Linked DNA regions of Homo sapiens: region 1 is linked to region 2. The links come from fine-mapping of genetic effects on gene expression. A gene starts in region 2. The other region holds a variant in brackets. All regions are shown on one strand. Distances are from middle to middle.

Evidence for each region. PIP is the estimated chance that this variant, and not a neighbour inherited with it, causes the effect. A credible set is the group of variants that fine-mapping cannot tell apart.
Region 1: its variant is the best candidate, but not a certain one, in a credible set for the expression of RUSC1 in prefrontal cortex (ROSMAP, PIP 0.89).

What each region holds. Positions count from the first base shown.
Region 1 is chr1:154,778,111-154,782,547 of GRCh38, forward strand. All of the region lies in intron 2 of KCNN3 (potassium calcium-activated channel subfamily N member 3), which reads right to left. Among named protein-coding and RNA genes, the nearest start is that of KCNN3, 90 kb to the right of the region's middle. The variant T/C (reference allele first, on the strand shown) is at 2,881.
Region 2 is chr1:155,319,281-155,323,280 of GRCh38, forward strand. RUSC1 (RUN and SH3 domain containing 1) reads left to right here and starts at 1,614. Exons shown (of 10, transcript NM_001105203.2): 1 at 1,614-1,711; 2 at 2,408-3,850. The coding sequence starts at 2,494. FDPS (farnesyl diphosphate synthase) reads left to right here. Exons shown (of 11, transcript NM_002004.4): 9 at 331-408; 10 at 514-648; 11 at 1,129-1,385. The coding sequence ends at 1,329. RUSC1-AS1 (RUSC1 antisense RNA 1) reads right to left here. Exons shown (of 6, transcript NR_145424.1): 2 at 2,963-3,157; 3 at 2,345-2,415; 4 at 523-652. RefSeq lists silencers at 1,556-1,705, 3,686-3,925 and an enhancer at 2,321-3,304.

The DNA of each region.
Region 1 (4,437 bases), 540 kb before region 2:
GGCTCTAGGCCTAATCCCTCTACCACTTAACTGGTGGTTCTGAGAACTTGCCGGATTTTCAGCCGTTAGTATAATTCTGAGAGCTCTGGGAGGGAGATTTTATGCAACAGTGATTCCAAACTTTCCTTTAAGGAGCTTGTAATTAGAGAAAAAGGAGAACTAACCCAACTCAGTTCAATATAATAATTATTAAGAATCAACAAGGTTAGGCCATTGTGGGTATATAAATCTGAATCAAACACATGTCCCATGAATCAGTGCACAATCTCAAGTAGTTCTAGCAAAAGACATGCATGATTAGGATGCAATTTGAAAAGCTTCTTGGGTTACATAGGGCTTCAGCAGCGCCCGGAAGGCATGCATCAGACACACCAGAGGGGGCAGCTTGCAGAAAAGGCCACAGATTCCTCCCATCCCATTCACTTACTTCTGTACATGTGACTTTGCCTCTCTTCCAATCAAGAAGTACAGCCTATTTCTCTCTCCCTCTCTCTCTGTCTCTTTTTTTTTTTTTTTTTTTTTTTTTGAGACAGAGTTTCACTCCTGTCACCCAGGCTGGAGTGCAATGGCACCATCTGCCTCCCGGGTTCAAGCGATTCTCCTGCCTCAGCCTCCTGAGTAACTGGGATAACAGGCACCCACAACCACACTTGGCTAATTTTTGTATTTTTAGTAGAGATGGGGTTTCACCATGTTGGCCAGGCTGGTCTCGAACTCCTGACCTCCAGTGATCCACCCACCTTGGCCTCCCAAAGTGCTGGGATTACACGTATGAGCCACCACGCCTGGCCAGTACAGCCTATTTCTCAATCCCTTCCGTCTGAACTTAGCCATGTACCTTGCTTTGGCCAGTGGAACATTAAAAAGTGTGATACAGCAGAGGTTTAAAAAATGTCATCGCCATGAGGCTCACTATAGACACATGGCCTCACTATCCCTTTCACCCCAGCCTGCAGCCAGTACCAGCTGCCAGCCATCAGAAGCCGTCCTAGACCAGCTGCATGACAGAAGCTCACCCAAGGTGAGACCAGCAGAAGAACCACCAAGCTGAGCCCAGCCCAAATGACTGACCCACAGAAACGTGACCTAAATTATTATTTTAAGCCATTATGTTTTGAGGTGCTTTGTTATGCAACAAAACTAATATATAACAAAACTAATTCTTATATTTGGCACATATTAGAAAAGCCAGGTCATGTGCCTACTGTGCCCAACATTTTCCTTTTAGATTCTTATGCCACAGCCCCTAGCAGGAACCCTCACCCGTCCCCACCTTCCCACTCCACTCAGTTATATTTGCTGGCCAGTCCTTCTCAAGTAACTGGGTGACTGGATGGGGAGGAGATCAGGGTCAAGGGCCATTCCTTGATGGCCATTCCCCCATCCCCACTCTCCCCATGGACACATGATTTGAGATATCAAAGAATAACTCAGAGCATTTAAAAAGTTATTTTGCAAGCAGTTTAGTTGTTTTGCATACAAAGTGTTTTCTCAGATGTGAGGAAGTCAGCTGGTAGACTGAATCAGGGAACAAGGGCACAACAGAATTAATGGGCAGGGGGGCCGCTGGAGAAAAACAGCAGGGAGTCTGGGAGCAGTGGACCTTGTTGGCAAATGCTGAGGGTAAATGGATTCGCTGGCAGCTAACAAAGAGGTCAGCATGGCATTCCATCCTTGGACGGCCAGCGAGGGATAGTACAGAAAGCACTTTCAGTTATTCAGGGATTCTTCAGAAGCCCTTGGCTTTCAGCTGTGGGTGTGTCACAGGCCCTCTCCCTTGTCACCTGCACCTCAGGGAGTCCAGGTCTGACCTTTCCCTGGTTAGAGTGTCTCGCCAAGCAAAGATGTCATCACCAGCTCACCACAAGGCCAACGCTGAAGGCCATCTGGACACCTCAGGACAGGGCCGTTCAGCTGCAATCTCTGCAGGGCCTGGGACAGGCTGCCTTGACAAGGAGACAAGGACACTACCCAGTGCCTCCAGCAGCCACATGGCACAGCCCGAGCTTCAGACTTGCGAGGCCTCCCCACATTTCCTGCAAAGGGGTAGGCATGCAGGGAAGCTTGCCTTTTTTCTTTTTTTCTTTTTTTTTTTTTTTTTTTTTTTTTAGGATAAGTTTAGAGTCGATTCATTGGATTCACTCGTTTTTCCCCCCATTCTATTTTGAAAGACTTGAGACCTTTCTGATTTTTTATTTAAGCAAAATCTGTCATTAAAATGTTCTCAGCTATCAGGGAGGAGAGCGTATTCCTGCTTAGACACTTTCTGACCAACCTGAAAAACTTTCACTCTTGCACAACTGTGAATTTCTCTAAATTAAAGGAGAGAAAATGGAAAAAGCCTTTTTGTGTACTGTTCTCTCTCTGTGGGGAGAAGAACTTCCGGGAAAATTTCCATCATTTAAAAAAACGACACAGAAACAAAGCAAGAAGAAAAAATTACAGATTTTCTTAAGATATATTATTTATATATATGTTTTATATTTTATATATATATATATACATATATAAATTTAAACACCCTGGAGCATATATTCTGCATGTACACCATTACTACGGGGGTTACCATGGAAGCAACATCAAAAATCCTGTAGTACCTAATTAGGTTTCCCTGAGGACAGGAGCTGATTGCCAGTGACGAAATGAACTTCTGGGTTTGCAGCAATGGTTGGTAAAATTACCAGTCAGCAAATGCTCCATGGAACTAGAGGAAGAAAGGGAGGCGGGTGGGGGTTGGGAAGCAAAGGTGGAAAAATGGTGGCTCTAAAAGAGGCCAGCCAGTGAACAGGCCTTGTCAGGGAAGTCTATGATTCTACCATAAACAAGATGCTTAGGGCGTTGGGGTCCACGCTACCCCGCTCTGTGTCTAAGAAGAAATTG[T/C]CCTCATCTGAAACCATCCCACTCCCTGGGCCATGTGTGATGTCCCACAGTGGCTCTTTGGTCCGGCCAGGATAGGCTTCTCCTGAGCGCTTCGCCAGAGCTCACTTTTGGTCTCTTGCAGTGTGTAATGACCACTCATGGGGGTTATGGAGTCTGAAGTTTGTTTGGGACTAACAGAGACCAGTGGTGATCATAAATCCTTTCCCCTGTCCTCAGTTCTCAGAGAAAGAAAGCCAAGTTTCGGCATTTGAGCGAGCCACTATTTTTTACTCACGTAGCAGGAATTTCTTGATCCCTGAGCACGTCACCACTAGGGATAGAGCATCCCACCTCTGGCCATCTGTGTGTGGCAAGTCTCTGGACCTCAGATTCCTCAGTGTAATGTGAAGACTTGGATGCAATTTGTGGTTTTCCATTTTCTCTGGGCTGTGGGGCCATTTCTTTCATAAGATTTTTCATGTACGCCCAACATGGGAAACAGACAAATTCAGAGCTGTTGTAGTTGAAAGGGTAGAGAAGAACATTCAAAGATCAACTCACTCACCTCCTCCTCCAGCCTAGGTCTCTGTAGTGGACCCCATGCTCTCCATAGAACCCTTTGACTGGAAATCCTTTGGATGGACCAGCTGGTCTCTAGTTGTAAGGAGAGACAAGGTGTGATGCTGGAAATCAAGTGTTTGGGGTCTGGTTCAAGAGGTGCTCGATGCACAGGCAGGGAGCTTTGCCCCGATCAGCTTATTCACTCATTCATTCATTGAGCATGAGTTGAGCCCCCATTATGTGACAGTCCTTGGTAAGCTCTAGGGATATAGCAAGACAAGTAGACAAGGCCCCTGTCCCCACAGAGCTTACATTTCAGGGGAGGAAAACAGATATTAAACAGGTAAACCATTTAATTTTAGAGAGTGATGCCTGCCAGGAAGAGAATAAGACAGGGCAAAGGAAATGAGAGAAGTCCCAGACAGCCAGGACAGGGAGGGCTCTCTATGGAAGGGACCTCTGAATCCAAAGTGAGCCTTGCAAAGGTATGCATTACAGAGGGGACAGCATGTGCAAAAACCCCAAGGCAGGATGGAGCTTAGAGAGTTGGAGAGATAAAAGAAAGAAGACCAATGTGAGAAAGAAGTGAGGGATGATACCAGGTGAGACCAAGAAGGTAGCAGGACCCAGATCATTGGGACCTTGGATGTCACAGAAGGAGCTTCCTCAAAGGACAGGAGACCACAGACCCACTCCCACCAGGGCCATGTGCACCATGTCACCACTTTCTGAAAACACACTGCCCACAGGTTAAATATGCACCACAGCTCGGGCCTCCGAAACAAAATATCATAGACTGGGTAACTCAAAAAACAGAAATGTATTTTTTCACAGTTCTGGAGGCTGGAAGTCTGAGATCAGGGTGCCAACACGGTCAGGCTCTCTTCCCGGCTTGCAGGTGGCTGCCATCTCACTGTGTCCTCACATGGCAGAGAAAGGGAGAGGGATCTCTCTTTTTCTCTTCTCCTAGAGCTGCAGTCCTATAGGACTAGACCTCATCCTTATGACCTTATTTAA
Region 2 (4,000 bases):
TCCTTTTCATCTTGAAAGAAGTTGGAGGTGGCAAAAATATTAGGAAGGTGGATCAGAATGACTTGGGGACTGACATTTGTGAGGGAAGAGACAGGCTGTGCACCTCTAGAATGGATTCATCTCTTTTATGACTCCCAGGAAGGCCTAGCCAAAAATAAGTGGGATTGAGGTTGGACCATCAGTCAGGACTGTCTAGGTCAGGGAAGCCAAGATGTCTGAAGAGAGAGGAAAGATTTGGGGCTGCAGTAGGGCAAGACCCCATGGGAGGAAGCAGCCAGGAAGATGCCGGCACCCCTGGGGTTTGGCTTATTAACCCCCCTTTCCCTGCAGGCAGGAATTGATGGCGAGAAGGAGCACGCCAATGCCAAGAAGATCCTGCTGGAGATGGGGGAGTTCTTTCAGATTCAGGTAAGAAGGCAGGAGGCAGTAGCAGAGAACAGGCACCAGCTTCACTCCTCCTCTGCCCAGGAACCTCATCCTTCCTCTTTTGCTGCCCTCCCCCTCCCTGCCCAGGATGATTACCTTGACCTCTTTGGGGACCCCAGTGTGACCGGCAAAATTGGCACTGACATCCAGGACAACAAATGCAGCTGGCTGGTGGTTCAGTGTCTGCAACGGGCCACTCCAGAACAGTACCAGATCCTGAAGGTGCCTGAGAGAGGGTGGTGGGTCCCTGAGTTGGTGGAAAGGGATAGAGCAGTGGTTCTCAACTAGAGGCAGTTTTCCTCCCGAGGGGACATTTGGCAATGTCAGCAGACATTTTTTGCCATTGTCATTACAACTCTGTGTGTGTGCATGTGGTACAGACATCTAGTTGGCAGGAGCCAAAGATGTTGCCAAACATGTAGTACACAGAACAGCTCCCCCAGACAGGATTATCTGGTCCCAAATTTCAATAGTGCCAAGGTGGAGAAACCCTGGAGTAGAGGATGCCTGGTATGAGGCAATATTTGGGATAGGGAAGGGAAGCTTGGGATTTTAGCTACGTAGAGACACTTGAAAATTGGAGGGAGGAAAGGAGTGGGTGGCTTTGGAGATGTTCTGGAATATGTGAATGAGGGGAGTGGAGGGGTCCTGGAGGCTCTGGGGAAGGCCAAGCCCGTTTTCCTGTCTTTCAACCTCTTCCAGGAAAATTACGGGCAGAAGGAGGCTGAGAAAGTGGCCCGGGTGAAGGCGCTATATGAGGAGCTGGATCTGCCAGCAGTGTTCTTGCAATATGAGGAAGACAGTTACAGCCACATTATGGCTCTCATTGAACAGTACGCAGCACCCCTGCCCCCAGCCGTCTTTCTGGGGCTTGCGCGCAAAATCTACAAGCGGAGAAAGTGACCTAGAGATTGCAAGGGCGGGGAGAGGAGGCTCTCAATAAATAATCGTGTAACCTTCTTGTGGTTCTGTTCTTGCTCGGCCCAGCCAGAGTCTGGCTCTTTCCAGAATGTGCAGGGTGGGGTGCTGGGAGGACTCGCTGCACGGAACCAGGACCCAGGGGCCAAAAGCTTAGGATATATCAAACCCTCTAGGTGGGTGACAAAAGACGCTAAACGCTGGGGGCGGGTCTGAGCTACGCCACGCCCATGCGCGAAGGGGTGCAGCTGCGCAGCGCAGGGTAGGTTGTGCTAGTGCCCCTCCCCTCCCGCTCTGTGCCCCGCCGGGCGGGGACCGTGGGAGCCGCGGACAAGCCCAAGGCCGGAGCGGTTCCAGGAGGACCCTGGTGAGGAGGGCTCGGCCCATGGGTGTAGACCGATGGACCTGGGCACGAGGGGCGGGGCAGGACAAGGGAGCAGGAGAAATGAATAGAGAAAGGGTGCGGTGGTGGCTGAACGATGGAGACGAATGCGGAGAGAATGGACATACCGCTGTTCCGAGGGGCGAGGGCGCAGGCTGGAGCCCGGCCGAGGCAGCCAGCAGATGCGGAGTTGACAAGCTGACGGCTGCTCCATCCTTTTCCTCTCCAGCCCCCACCCCTTTCCTGCATTCACCAGACAAACTCTGCGTATTGCCCCACCCCCATCCTCCACCTCCTTTCAGGGCATCTGGGTGGGTCTCCCTGGGTCCCTTCCTCTGGGAGTAAGGGGTAGGCTGGAGGGCAGGGCCAGATTGCGGCAGCAGGGACCTGGAGGTCCATTCTGGGCCCGGACCTCTTCCAGGCCCCCGCCCCCCTTCGGAGATCCAGAGCGCAGCCGCGTTCTCTGACCCTCCCGGCTCCATTCCCGGGGGGTTACATTCGACTCCATCTGCAAACACTGCAGTGGAAACTAATGGTCAGTCGATTGCGATTTGCATCTCATTGAAATATCTTCCAAAGCAGCCAGAGCCTTCAGGCCTGCTGCTGCCGTCAAGTCACCTCGGTGTCCTTCCCCGCAGCTCTTGTCCTCACTGGCCGGGCTTCACCACCTCTGTCTTCTAGGTCTGCACCTGTGGTTGCCAGGTAGGTGGATGTGAGAGACCCTACCCTTCTGGTTCTCTAGAAGCCATCCCATCGCCGCTAGCATCATGCTGTCCCCTCAGAGAGCTTTACTCTGCAACCTCAACCACATCCACCTCCAGCACGTCTCCCTGGGCCTGCACTTGTCCCGCCGTCCTGAGCTACAGGAGGGGCCTTTGAGCACACCCCCTCCTCCAGGAGACACTGGGGGCAAGGAGAGCAGGGGCCCCTGCAGTGGCACCCTGGTGGACGCCAATTCCAACAGCCCAGCTGTGCCCTGCCGGTGCTGCCAGGAGCACGGTCCGGGCCTAGAAAACCGGCAGGACCCGTCACAGGAGGAAGAGGGGGCTGCCTCTCCCTCAGACCCAGGCTGCTCCTCCTCACTCAGCTCCTGCTCAGATCTTAGCCCCGATGAGTCCCCTGTCTCAGTCTACTTGCGGGACCTCCCTGGTGATGAGGATGCCCACCCTCAGCCCAGTATCATCCCCCTGGAGCAGGGCTCCCCACTGGCTTCAGCAGGCCCTGGCACCTGCTCACCGGACAGCTTCTGCTGCTCTCCTGATTCCTGCTCCGGAGCTTCTTCTTCACCCGATCCTGGCCTGGACTCGAACTGCAACGCCCTGACCACCTGCCAGGACGTCCCTTCCCCAGGCTTGGAGGAAGAGGACGAGAGGGCGGAGCAGGATCTCCCTACCTCTGAGCTCTTAGAGGCGGATGATGGGAAAATCGACGCTGGGAAAACGGAGCCCAGTTGGAAGATTAACCCAATTTGGAAAATTGACACAGAGAAAACTAAAGCTGAATGGAAAACCACTGAAAACAATAACACTGGTTGGAAAAACAACGGGAATGTTAACTCTAGCTGGAAAAGTGAACCTGAAAAATTCGACTCTGGTTGGAAAACCAACACAAGAATAACTGATTCTGGCTCGAAAACAGATGCAGGGAAAATTGATGGAGGATGGAGAAGTGACGTCAGCGAGGAGCCGGTGCCCCACCGGACAATCACGTCCTTCCACGAGCTGGCCCAGAAGCGCAAGCGGGGCCCAGGGCTGCCCCTTGTCCCGCAGGCGAAGAAAGATCGCAGTGACTGGCTCATAGTCTTCTCGCCCGACACCGAGCTCCCCCCCTCGGGGTCGCCGGGCGGCTCCTCGGCACCTCCTCGGGAAGTCACCACCTTCAAGGAACTCCGGTCCCGAAGCCGGGCCCCAGCCCCGCCAGTCCCGCCTCGAGACCCCCCAGTTGGCTGGGCTTTGGTCCCGCCCCGGCCCCCACCCCCGCCTGTCCCTCCCCGAAGGAAGAAGAACCGACCTGGACTGCAGCCCATAGCGGAGGGGCAGTCCGAGGAGGGCCGGGCTGTCAGCCCAGCGGCTGGCGAGGAGGCCCCAGCCGCGAAGGAGCCGGGCGCGCAGGCCGGCCTGGAGGGTAAGAGGTCGCAAGAAGCGGGAGGAGGGCTGGGCTTCGGCCGCTCACGCCTCCTAGGCTTCCAACCCGGCCCCCTGTCTTCCCTCCATTCTGTGTCACCCATCCTCCCCGCCCCTTCTACCAGGGAGCGCTCCGGGAAAGGGAAACTGG